Linked DNA regions of Homo sapiens. The protein of the gene in region 1 purifies or fractionates together with the protein of each later gene. This does not show direct contact. Each region holds a gene or a part of one and is shown in the gene's direction. Other genes may lie near its edges.

The links.
Region 2: the proteins of FRMD5 (region 1) and COLEC12 purify together in Homo sapiens (affinity purification with mass spectrometry; one large-scale study listed by BioGRID and IntAct). This does not show direct contact.
Region 3: the proteins of FRMD5 (region 1) and CYB5A purify together in Homo sapiens (co-immunoprecipitation; one large-scale study listed by IntAct). This does not show direct contact.

What each region holds. Positions count from the first base shown.
Region 1 is NC_000015.10:43,922,751-43,926,403, reverse strand, and holds part of FRMD5 (FERM domain-containing protein 5), read left to right. Parts: intron 1-2,094; coding exon 2,095-2,199; intron 2,200-3,653. UniProt on the Homo sapiens protein: May be involved in regulation of cell migration. May regulate cell-matrix interactions via its interaction with ITGB5 and modifying ITGB5 cytoplasmic tail interactions such as with FERMT2 and TLN1.
Region 2 is NC_000018.10:329,619-333,271, reverse strand, and holds part of COLEC12 (collectin-12), read left to right. Parts: intron 1-128; coding exon 129-265; intron 266-1,494; coding exon 1,495-1,604; intron 1,605-3,653. UniProt on the Homo sapiens protein: Scavenger receptor that displays several functions associated with host defense. Promotes binding and phagocytosis of Gram-positive, Gram-negative bacteria and yeast.
Region 3 is NC_000018.10:74,257,311-74,260,963, reverse strand, and holds part of CYB5A (cytochrome b5), read left to right. Parts: intron 1-19; coding exon 20-49; intron 50-3,653.

The sequences.
Region 1 (3,653 bases):
ACAAACGTGATAACCACTACACTACAGAAATTCCTCATACAACCTCAATTTGTATGCAAAATTAGACATAGACCCGCCAGAGATGATCATCTGAACTGAGCTGCAGAGACCACTGGGGACAGGCCAGCGATGGATGCTGTGCAGGCTCCAGATGTTTTGACAGGTTCCTGCAAGTCATTCTCCTCCCACTTCACCCTTGGCATCCAGGCAGGTCTCTGAAGTAGAAGGTTATGGGTTATAAACGGCCTAGCTTTTCACCATTTTGTGAAATCTTTTAGCAAACCTTTTCCCTTCTATTCATTCAGTAATTTATTCAACAAATAATTATTGAGGACCTGCCTGCCATGCATCAGGCCCTGTGCTAAGTTCTGGGGGAAGGATTCTGACCTCATGAAAATTACAGTCTAGAAAGGAAGCAGATAGTAAATAGATAACTAAACAAATCAACAAGATAATTACAGATTGGTATAAGTGCTATGAAGGACATAAATGGCAAAATGAGATGGAAAGTAACTGGGAAGGGCTGTACTATAGGGAAAGGCCTCTCTGAAGAGGGGACATTTGAGCTGAGTCCTCAAAAAATAGGAGTGGCTGCAGAGAGCTGCAGGAAGAACATTCCCGGCAGAGGGAATGCAAAGACAGTGGCAGAAAAGCCTTGGGGAGTTCAGAACGGAAAGGCCATGGCTGAAGTGTAGTGAGGAAAATGATTTTGGGTGAGTGCAGAGAGAAGCCAGGCTGTATAGGGCCTGGGACGCCATGATCAGAGTTTTCATTTTATTCTGAGAGCAACAAGAATTAAGAGAAGTGAGTAACATAAAGATCATTGTATGTTCACTGCCACATTGTTTGTAATAGCAAATTAGAAACAAATGTCATCAATATGGAACTGGGTAAATAATTTTAGATTCATTGCAGTGACATGCAGCAGTTAAAAACTGTGAGGCATATCTATATATATTGCCATAGAAGGATTTGCAGGATACCCTAAGTGGGAGAAAAGAGCTTAAAAATATGTTACAAAATGTATTTTTAAAAGAGGAGATGTATATGTATGTAGGTTTGCCTGTGTATAAAACATCACATAAAGGATATACAAGAGGGCTGGGCATGGTGGCTCACACCTTTAATCCTAGCACTTTGGGAGGCCGAGGCAGGCAGATCACCTAAGGTCAGAAGTTAGAGACCAGCCTGACCAACATGGTGAAACCCCGTGTCTACTAAAAATACAAAAATTAGCTGGACGTGGTGGCACATGCCTGTAATCCCAGCTACTTGGGAGGCTGAGACAGGAGAATCGTGTGAACCCAGGTGGTGGAGGTTGCAGTGAGCCAAGACTGCGCTATTGCACTCCAGCCTGGGAGACAGAACGAGACTCCATCTCAAAAAAAAAAAAAAAAAAAGGATATACAAGAAGCTGATAACAGTTGCTTCTAGGGAGAGGAACTGGGGCACAGGGTGGCCAGGGTGGAAGGGAGACTTACTGTTCATAGTATATCCTTTTGTTTGTTTAAATATCCTACAATGTGCCTGATCACTTATTCAGCAAGAAAGAGATGATGTCTAAATTGTGGACACCCTCATTGCTGTGCGGAGAATGGACTGAAAGGGCAAGAGCAAAGGCAGAAGATCAGTTAGAAGGCTCTGGCAGTGGTCCTGTTGAGGGATGGTGGTGGCTTGACCTATGGTGTTGGTAACAGAGAGGAAGAGAAGTGAATGGATTCAAGATTTACTTTAGAGGCTCAGTCAGCTGGGCCTGGTGTAATTATTGCTGTATTCCACACTGACATTCCCTACACCCACAGTTTAAGAAAGCTCTCTGTGCATTTGAGATGGGAACTGGGCTTACCTGACTCTACCCTGACTTCTCTGACATCTTTGTGGTGGGAAGGGTTCTTGGGCTCCTTCCAGGTGCTAAAAGCCTCTGGATTCCAGACAGTGAGTGATGTATCACAATGTGGAGGACATAGTTATGGACATTCACCCCTTTCATAGACACATGCAACAGTTACAAACAACTTTTAATGGCTATAAAAAAAAAAAAAGTTACACTGAAGAAACCCACTCATTTCTCAATGGAGTTTTCTTTCTTTGCAGAGAGATGCCAAAGGCCAGTACCTGTTTGACCTTCTTTGCCACCATCTGAACCTACTTGAGAAAGACTATTTTGGTATCCGCTTTGTAGACCCAGATAAGCAGCGGGTAAGTCAATATTCAAAGCACAAAAGGAGGACAGGGCTAGTCAATAAGACTGAGGTCTTGAACTGTCATTCATATTCAAAGTCAAGCTTCAGGAATCAGGGACCAACCAGACCCTGCAGTTGGATGTCGTCTCTTCAGATCATAGCATTAGACCTGGAAGGCACCTTGGCTAGAGCTCACCTGGAGAAGCTTGTCATTTTACAGTTGCTGAAATGGCAGGCTAGGGAGCTTAAATGATTTGCACAAAGTTGGAGGCAGAGCAGCTGGGCTGGAGTTGTGGTCTCGGAGCCCAAGTCACAGGGTGAGCCTCTCCTGCCCACTTTCTAGTAAGCAGGCTGAAGCACATTGTACTGGTTAGGAAAGGCCTCACCAAAGGTGCCATACCAACCCAATCTAGGCAGTACAGACAGAGCCAAACCAGCGCGGGCCTTTCAGCACCTTGCAGATCTTGCAGTTCTTGCTCTGCTCTACACAGCATAGGCAGCTCTGCAGACACAGGGCATTCTGATAGCCAAGGGTGCTGATATTCCAGACAGATTCAGGAACAAGTCCATCATCTCAGGCCCCTGCCTATTTCTCCAGCTTCATCTCCCCAACCTGCTGTGGTCCCGCCAGACAGTAATACTTTTGCCCTCCAGATACATCATACCTTCTTTCTTTACAGAGCCTTCACCTATAGAGTTCCCCTGCCTAGAATCTTCTCCTTTTCCTTACCGCTCCACACTCCACACCCTTCTTCCAGCTAACTCCTTTTCACACTTAAGGTCTCAGCTTAGACTTTTACTTCCTCTGGGAAATCTCCCCTAACCCCACTCTGTATTAGGGATCCTCCTATGGGCCCCCATGTGCCCTCTGCTACCCTGTTATAGCACTTATTACATCATTCTGTGATTACCTGTGTTCCCTGCAAAAATGTAAGTTCCATGAGGGCCTGGACTTTGTCTCATTCATCACTATCTCCCATTTAACTAGCACAGGCCTACAATGTAGTTGGTGTTCAATAAATATTTTCTGAAGAAATGAATGCATGAGTGAGTTAATGGCTTATAGTGTTGTATTTCTTACGTCCATTTGCCCAGCCTCCCAGCTTGCAGACACCTGCAGTTTCTATAACTTCCCTTCATCTACCCTTTGCTCTTTGTGGAGATGTACTCTCTGGCATCCCCACCAAAGTAGAGAGGTAATGATGGTGTTTCTTTGTTTGGTCCAAACTTTTATCCTTAAAAAGGAAGGCTGGCTGTGTGCACTGGCTCATGCCTGTAATCCCAGCACTTTGGGAGGCTAAGGCAGGCGGATTGTTTCAGCCCAGGAGTTCATGACCAGCCTGGGCAACATGGCAAAACCCCGTCTCCACTAAAAATACAAAAATTCGCGGAAATGGTGGCATGTGCCTGTAGTCCCAGCTACTTGGGAGGCTGAGACATGAGAATCACTCGAACCCGGGAGGTGGAGGT
Region 2 (3,653 bases), on another chromosome or scaffold:
GGCCTCGTGCAGGGACGCTCAGGCTGCTCCCAGCGGGACCACAGTTTTGGCCTCTGAAACACAGCTGAAGAAAGGCAGAGTGCTTTCTGTGATCTTTTAATCAATGTTTTCCACTTTTGCATTCCTAGGCTGCCCGCCTCACTGGAAGAACTTCACAGACAAATGCTACTATTTTTCAGTTGAGAAAGAAATTTTTGAGGATGCAAAGCTTTTCTGTGAAGACAAGTCTTCACATCTTGTTTTCATAAACACTAGAGAGGAACAGGTATGCCTGCCACATACTTGGTTGGGGAAAACTATAATTTAAGGATAGTTTACATCTGGAAATTGCAGGCTTGTTGGGGATTCAGAGATATCACGAATTCCTAGTCACGTAAACATGGGAGGCAACATTACAGAGATTTGGGTTTCATCCAGTGGCTAGAAGCATTCGTGGCATTGGAATTGTATCTTCATGATTCTTCCTGGAAGATATTGCCTATCAAGCCTGGAGATGTGTGGCTCCTTCTGGTGGCTGTTGAAATAATTATAATGCAGAGAAGCTTGAGGGCTGCCACCAGGCACCTGTGGGGACAGAGAGAGGCATGAACACTGTAGGGATGGAGTGGGGTGCAAGGGACCACGCATGGCTCCAGAGGAGTCAGGAAGAGCGAAGAAGGCTGAGGAGGCAGAGCCCACGCATGCTAATGCTAGTGTCCACTCATTAGACCCTCTATATGCCAGGCACCGTGAGAGGCATTTGCTCCCTTGAACCTCACAGCAACCCTAGAACATAGGTATTATTATTACCCTCATTTGACGGCTAGGAAAACTGAGGCCCGGCAAGGTTTATGCAGACTGAGACCAAAACTGCAGCCCATCTAGCAACAATGCAGCGCTTTCTTTGATACCACACCAATTCCAGTGGCCTCCTCCCTTCTCCCTAAGTTATCTCCAGCAGACACAATCCTGTAAACAGATGTTTCCTGTAGTAACTGACTGGAATGAGCACACGGCAGACAGTGACCAAGCACCTGGGCTTTAGAATACACAGACCAGGGCCCAAGCCCAGCTCAGCTACTTCTCATGTTTGTTCAGTGGGTTGTTATAAAAGCTTGGAGACACACTGCGTGCAACACACTGCACGTGGGGCCCAGCCCAGAGGAAGTGCCCAAGAATATCATGACTATTCCTATGATTAGGACATGGGAGAAATGGGTGGGTGGTAGGAGGAAGTGGGACCAATGGACATTCACTGGGTTGTCTGAGTGATTTAGAGGAAGAGCCTCACTTTAACATCCGTTGTAAACTTGTAAGAGGAAAAAAGTCAAAGCCCCCCAAACAGCACAAAACAAAGCAAGTAGCAAGAAAAAAGCAGAAAGCAAAAGCAGGCTACACATTCTGACAACCATCCTCTTTTAAATTGTCCTTTTTTCTAAATGTTAAATAAAAGAAAAAGGCCTGAGACATCTGTTCTGAAAAATAGTCACGCACCACCCCTGCTTTGTTTTTCAGCAATGGATAAAAAAACAGATGGTAGGGAGAGAGAGCCACTGGATCGGCCTCACAGACTCAGAGCGTGAAAATGAATGGAAGTGGCTGGATGGGACATCTCCAGACTACAAGTAAGTACTCAGAAGCTTCCAGATTGGTGGTCAGGCTCTCACTGTTCTGTTGTCACTTCTTGCCCGACTCCCAACAGTTTCTTCCTTAATGACCTCGTGTCCTAGACGCTCCTCCCAAACCGGGGCTCCTGGTACCAGTTGCATATTTCCCCTGGGGAAATCGTGGTTGACAGTTGATACGCTGTCAAATAAGGCTTTCCTTTCTTCTTTTCATGGAGTGAATTTTTTTTCATTTCTAAGAAAAAAATCATGAAACTCATAAAACCACACAGCATAATACTTCTGGCCAAGTCATTTTCTTTAAATGCTATGGGAAAAGATGATGAAGCCCAGGCAACCTCAGGCATGTTCAGCGTTCGCCCCAGGCGTGTTTCCAAGGACTGGGGAGCTCCCTTCAGGATCACACTGTGGGTGCCCCTGACCCCTAGTTGGGCTTCTAGGCAGAGTGTGATTAGAAACTACAAATGAGTAATTTTCCTGGCTGGGCACAGTGGCTCACGCCTGTAATCCCGGCACTTTGGGAGGCTGAGGTGTGCGGATCACTTGAAGTCTGGAGTTCGAGACCAGCCTGGCCAACATGGTGAAACCTCGTCTCTACTAAAAAAACAAAAAAAACAAAAATTAGCCGGATATGGTGGCGCATGCGGGTGATGCCAGCTACTCGGGAGGCTGAGGCAGAAGAATTGCTTAAACCCAGGAGGCGGAGGTTGTAGCAAGCCGAGATGGCGCCACTGCACTCCAGCCTGGGCCACAGAGCAAGACTCTATCTCAAAAAAGAAAAAAAAAAAAAAAAACTACAAATGTGTGATTTTCCTACTCATAGTAAGTTAAAATACACTATAAACAAAGTTGCATTTGCGGGATAACCATCCCCTAGAGGTTTGAAGATTCCCCATAAGTTCCATGTGACCTAAGTTCTATGAAAGGAGCAACAAAGAATAGAATCACTTTGAGGTACCTTCTTGGATAACCTAGAAGTCTCCAGGGCCTCATCCTACCCTAGGGGGTGTTAGCTCCTTCCCTAATTCTACCCAAAGATCTAACAATGACTGTATTGCATCAGTTTGATTATCACATCTCCATACTCTGGCTTTGCCTCTGACGGGTGTGAAAATTGCAAGGAACTGTAACAAATGAAGCAGAATTTATAAAAAAAATAAAATTAAAAAAAAAAAAAACCCTCTGAGTAACCTTTAGTTTGCTGGGGACGGAGAGGCCAGACCCTGCAGGGCTCCACCAGGCACAGGAGCATCACCGCATTGGAAGCACCTTCTGAGAGCACTAGGCAAAGTCCACGGTGTGGCCTCTGGGGCTGTCCCAGGAGAGGAGAAAACAAGGGTGTTTCAGGCCTAAGAGAGTCTCATGGGCATGGAGGCCTAGCCCTGTATCAGCTGAGCAGCAGGGAGGAGGGTCAGAGGTGATGGAGAAGCCAGATCGAGTTTTTTAAATGTCCCTATGTGCGTGTGCATGTGCATTTGGATAAACAGGCTCTTTTGTACTTTCAAATTCTCCATGTGAGTAGGATCAGAGGATAAAGGAGGAAACCAGAATAAGGCCATCTCTCTTTTGTTTTTATTTGTTTGTTTTTAAGGGACAAGGTCTCACTCTGTTGCCCAGGCTGAAGGGCAGTGGCACGATCATGGCTCACTGCAGCCTCTTATCTCCCCAGCTCAAGCGATCCTCCCACCTCAGACTCCCAAGTCCCTGGAATCACAGGTGCACATCACCACACCCGGCTAATTTTTAAAGTTTTTGGATAGACGTGGTCCACTATGTTGCTCTGGTTGGTCTCAAACTCCTAGCCTCAAGTGATCCTCCCACCTTGGCCTCGCAAAGCACTGGGATCAGAGGTATGAGCCACCGCACCTAGCCAGGCCAGCTCTTTATAAAAAATAAACATGTGGCGAAATATTGATTTGGAACATTAGAAGATTTTAGGTCTGCTCTGAAGGTGAGCCTCAGACTGCCCTTAAGGGCAAGTGGATATCTGCTGCAGGCCTGTCAGAGACTCGTCGGCTCCTCTGCGCCTGTCCTGGGGAGAGGAAGGGG
Region 3 (3,653 bases), on another chromosome or scaffold:
CCTTATCTTTTCATTGCAGGATGACAGACCAAAGTTAAACAAGCCTCCGGTAAGTGTGACCATCTCAAGTATCTCTGGATGTTCTCGTTGTATTTAATACTTGTCAAACTGAAGGCAGAGGGTTTTTATTTACCTGACTGATGCCAGCACAGGTCTTTCTAGATAAATGAATATGTAACCTACTGGCTCAGCAAGTATTTTTTATTTACGGAAACCTGTCAGTATGATTTGTTAGGATGGCGTGTGTGTAATTTTTTTAAGGCTGTCAGTAAACTACTTTTTTCATCATAATTATCAATATATACCATTTGAAGAGCTACTTTTTATGGTAGCACGTGCTTCTGATCTAAAAGATTTGACACAAGCCTTATTTTCAGAGAACTTAAAATCTGAATGGATAGTGGTTTTATTACTTAAATCTTTAAGGGTGTGTCTCATGTCTTCTTCATCTTTAAGTCTCTTGGGCATAGTAGGTGTTCAATAAATACTTGTCAGATGAATTTAATGAAATTAAATAATACCCTTTTGACTTACTTTTCCTTGGGAAAGGAAAATAACTCTGGCAATACTAGTTTTATGTTCTGATTCACTAGCCTTTCTCTCTGAACTGACCATCTCACTTATATTTGAAGATAAATGTAGGGTGAGAATGGAAGAGCACAGCCTAAGTTCCTGAAAAGTACAAGTAGGCAAAATAGTTTCTAGTGTCTAATTAAAGGACTACAGGGGAAAGTTTTGCTTAAATCAAATGACAAAAAAGAAAGTATAATTTTTCGTTTTGGTGTAAATTCTTGGTTTCATTAGAGAAAGTGCAACAGCAAGACCCCACTGAGCTTGTGTCGAGAACTGGTGAGCTGATTTTTTGAGCTGTTGCTGCCAAGACATCATCTTTAATCTACAAAAGGATCAAAGCAGTTAATCCAATAATATAAGCATAAAGGCCACATTTACCTCAACATCCCTGATAGTACAATAAAAGTCTTGTGTAATACTATTTAGTACAAAGCAATTTTTTTTATATTCTCTCCTTATTCAAGAAAGACTTAAGTTCAATGTGAATGATATGAGTACTTCCAGGAGATAAAAAGTTGACTTCAGAATTTCAATGGCCTCTGTGACAATTGCTTAGAATCCTTGCTGTGAGTTCATTTGACTTTAGCATCTTTTTTGAGGCTACTTTTTGGACAGCTGAAATTCTGTGTTGCATAAAGTTTTTCCTTTTTCTCTGAAGTCTCTTAAGGGAAGAATATATATTTTTTTTATCATGTGTTCAGCATGTTAATCATTTTGGTATAAGTCATTTAGCTATAGCAAAACAAAGGTTTAAGATTCATTAGATGAACTTAGATGACCGCAGGGCCAGCCGTCTCGCTAACCATAAAGACTACAAGCAGAAAACACTTGTAGGTGTAAGATTGTACATGTGTCTCCTGCCATAACTACTTTCAGTTTAAAGGACAAAGACTTTCTTCCTTATTTGCTTTTAGAACACGTGTATTACAGCCTATACTCTGTTGGATTAATTGCCCATTACTATTTATTGTTCTTATTTTCTATTTTAAAGTGGCAGTTACTTTGATACTGAGAATATTTTGGGAACAGAGCAAGTTTATGTGGTAAATTCTGGGACTTTAGCTTTTAGTATCAAAGAAAGCTTTCCTGACAACATTGAGGCACAGCCCTTTGTGCGTTAAGACATGGCTTACTTCATTCCAGCATTAGCAGTTGATACTTGATCAGCTTGTTAGATGTAGAAGGTCTCACTGAAGTTTGAGAATCACACTAACTTTTTAAAGTAGATTTTTGTTTGTTTGTTTTTGAGACGGAATTTTGCTCTTGTCACCCAGGCTGGAGTGCAATGGCGTGATCTCGGCTCACTGCAACATCCACCTGCTGGGTTCAAGCAATTCTCCTGCCTCAGCCTCCCGAGTAGCTGGGATTACAGGTGCCTGCCACCATGCCCAGCTAATTTTTGTATTTTTAGTAGAGATGGGGTTTCACCATTGTTGGCCAGGCTTGTCTTGAACTCCTGACCTCAGGCATTCGCCTGCTTCAGCCTCCCAAAATGCCGAGATTACAGGTGTGAGCCACGGCACCCAGCCTAAAGTAGATGTTTTTACTCTCTTCAGAGATTTTACAGATTAACTAACTTCTGAGTATTTTTTAAACAACTCTTCTTTATTGTGACTTTGCTTCAGTGAGAGCAGAACCGGAAGAATGTGGGACAAGAACTTGCTGGCCTTTTTGAGAGGCCATAAGCAGATGAAATGAAAGGAAATACATGAGCATTTTTCTGGATGTATCTTTCTTGTGCTTTTGGTTTAGTGGAAGTAAAGAGTGTCCTTAGGGATTTCTTTTGTCATGTGTCTGTATAACCATCGGCCGATCTCCAGGTTGAAGAATGTACACTGTGGTCTAAAGTTTTGAGATGTTGCCTGCTTAAAATATCTAGTTGAATAGTGAAATAAAATGCAGTAAAGATTATTAGCTTGAACCTGCCCTAAGGAAAGCATAGTGTTAAGTTACCAAATTAAGATATTTGTAGACTTAGAAATCATGCATTTTAATCTAACATAAATGTTTCTATCACATTTGCTTACATAGAGAATATTAGTCGTAGCAATACCCCTTCTTGGTTATAGTTTTGAAAGCATTCTTGTAGAAGTTATTTGGTCCTCACAGTGTCTCCATGTTAGACCTGCCAAGGGAGGTAGGTACATTGCAGCTGGGAAGTGTTAAGCACCCGGCTCACAGACGTGCTCCAGAACCATCTAGCACCCATCTCAGGCTGGTCAGTTGCAGTCCCTTAAGCTTCTCCTCTAGGTTCTGGGCTTGCCGTGTTAGACATCACTCTGTCAGTATTTTAAGGGAGATAGGCTTCCCACTAAAGTTTACGTTAGATGAACTTATAAATGAGATGACTCTGATTCACAAAAGCTTGTTGGGCTTTGCATGCTTTTCATAATTTATGGAGCTTACTGTAATTTACACTGATTCACATGACTTTTATAAGTCATTATGCATGACATACTTATTTTACTTTTTTGAGACGGGGTCTCACTCTGTTGCCCAGGCTGCAATGCAGCGGCATGGATCTGGACTCACTGCACCATCCACCTCCCGGGGTCAAGCAATCCTCCCACCTCAGCCTCCCGAGTAGCTGGACCATAGGCACACAGCACTGTGCCCAGCTAATTTTTGTATTTTTCTGTAGAGACAGGGTTTCACCATGTTGCCCAGACTGGTCTCGAACTGCTGGACTCAAGCAACCCGCCAATCTCGGCCTCCCAAAGTGCTGGGATTACAGGCCTGAGCCACCATGCCCAGACTTTGACACACTGATTTAATTGTTAACCTCTTTTTACTGAAGTTGAACCTCGAAGTCATGGAGTGAACAGGTGGCAGAGCCAATCATAAAAACCATATTCTTTCTCCTTGTTCATTGCTGACATTCTTTGATAGTCACGTCCCTAAACCCAAGTGAGGCCCTCAGAGCACTGACCACTAAAGACCAATTACTTTTCCATCAAAGTGCAAAGTGGTAATTCAAACTTCCTTTAACTGTCAAGCATCCTGGGCTACAGAGCCAAGAAGATAATCAACAATCAAAAGGTGATACGATTATTTCAAGTTCCCCTCTTTAGAGTTCATGG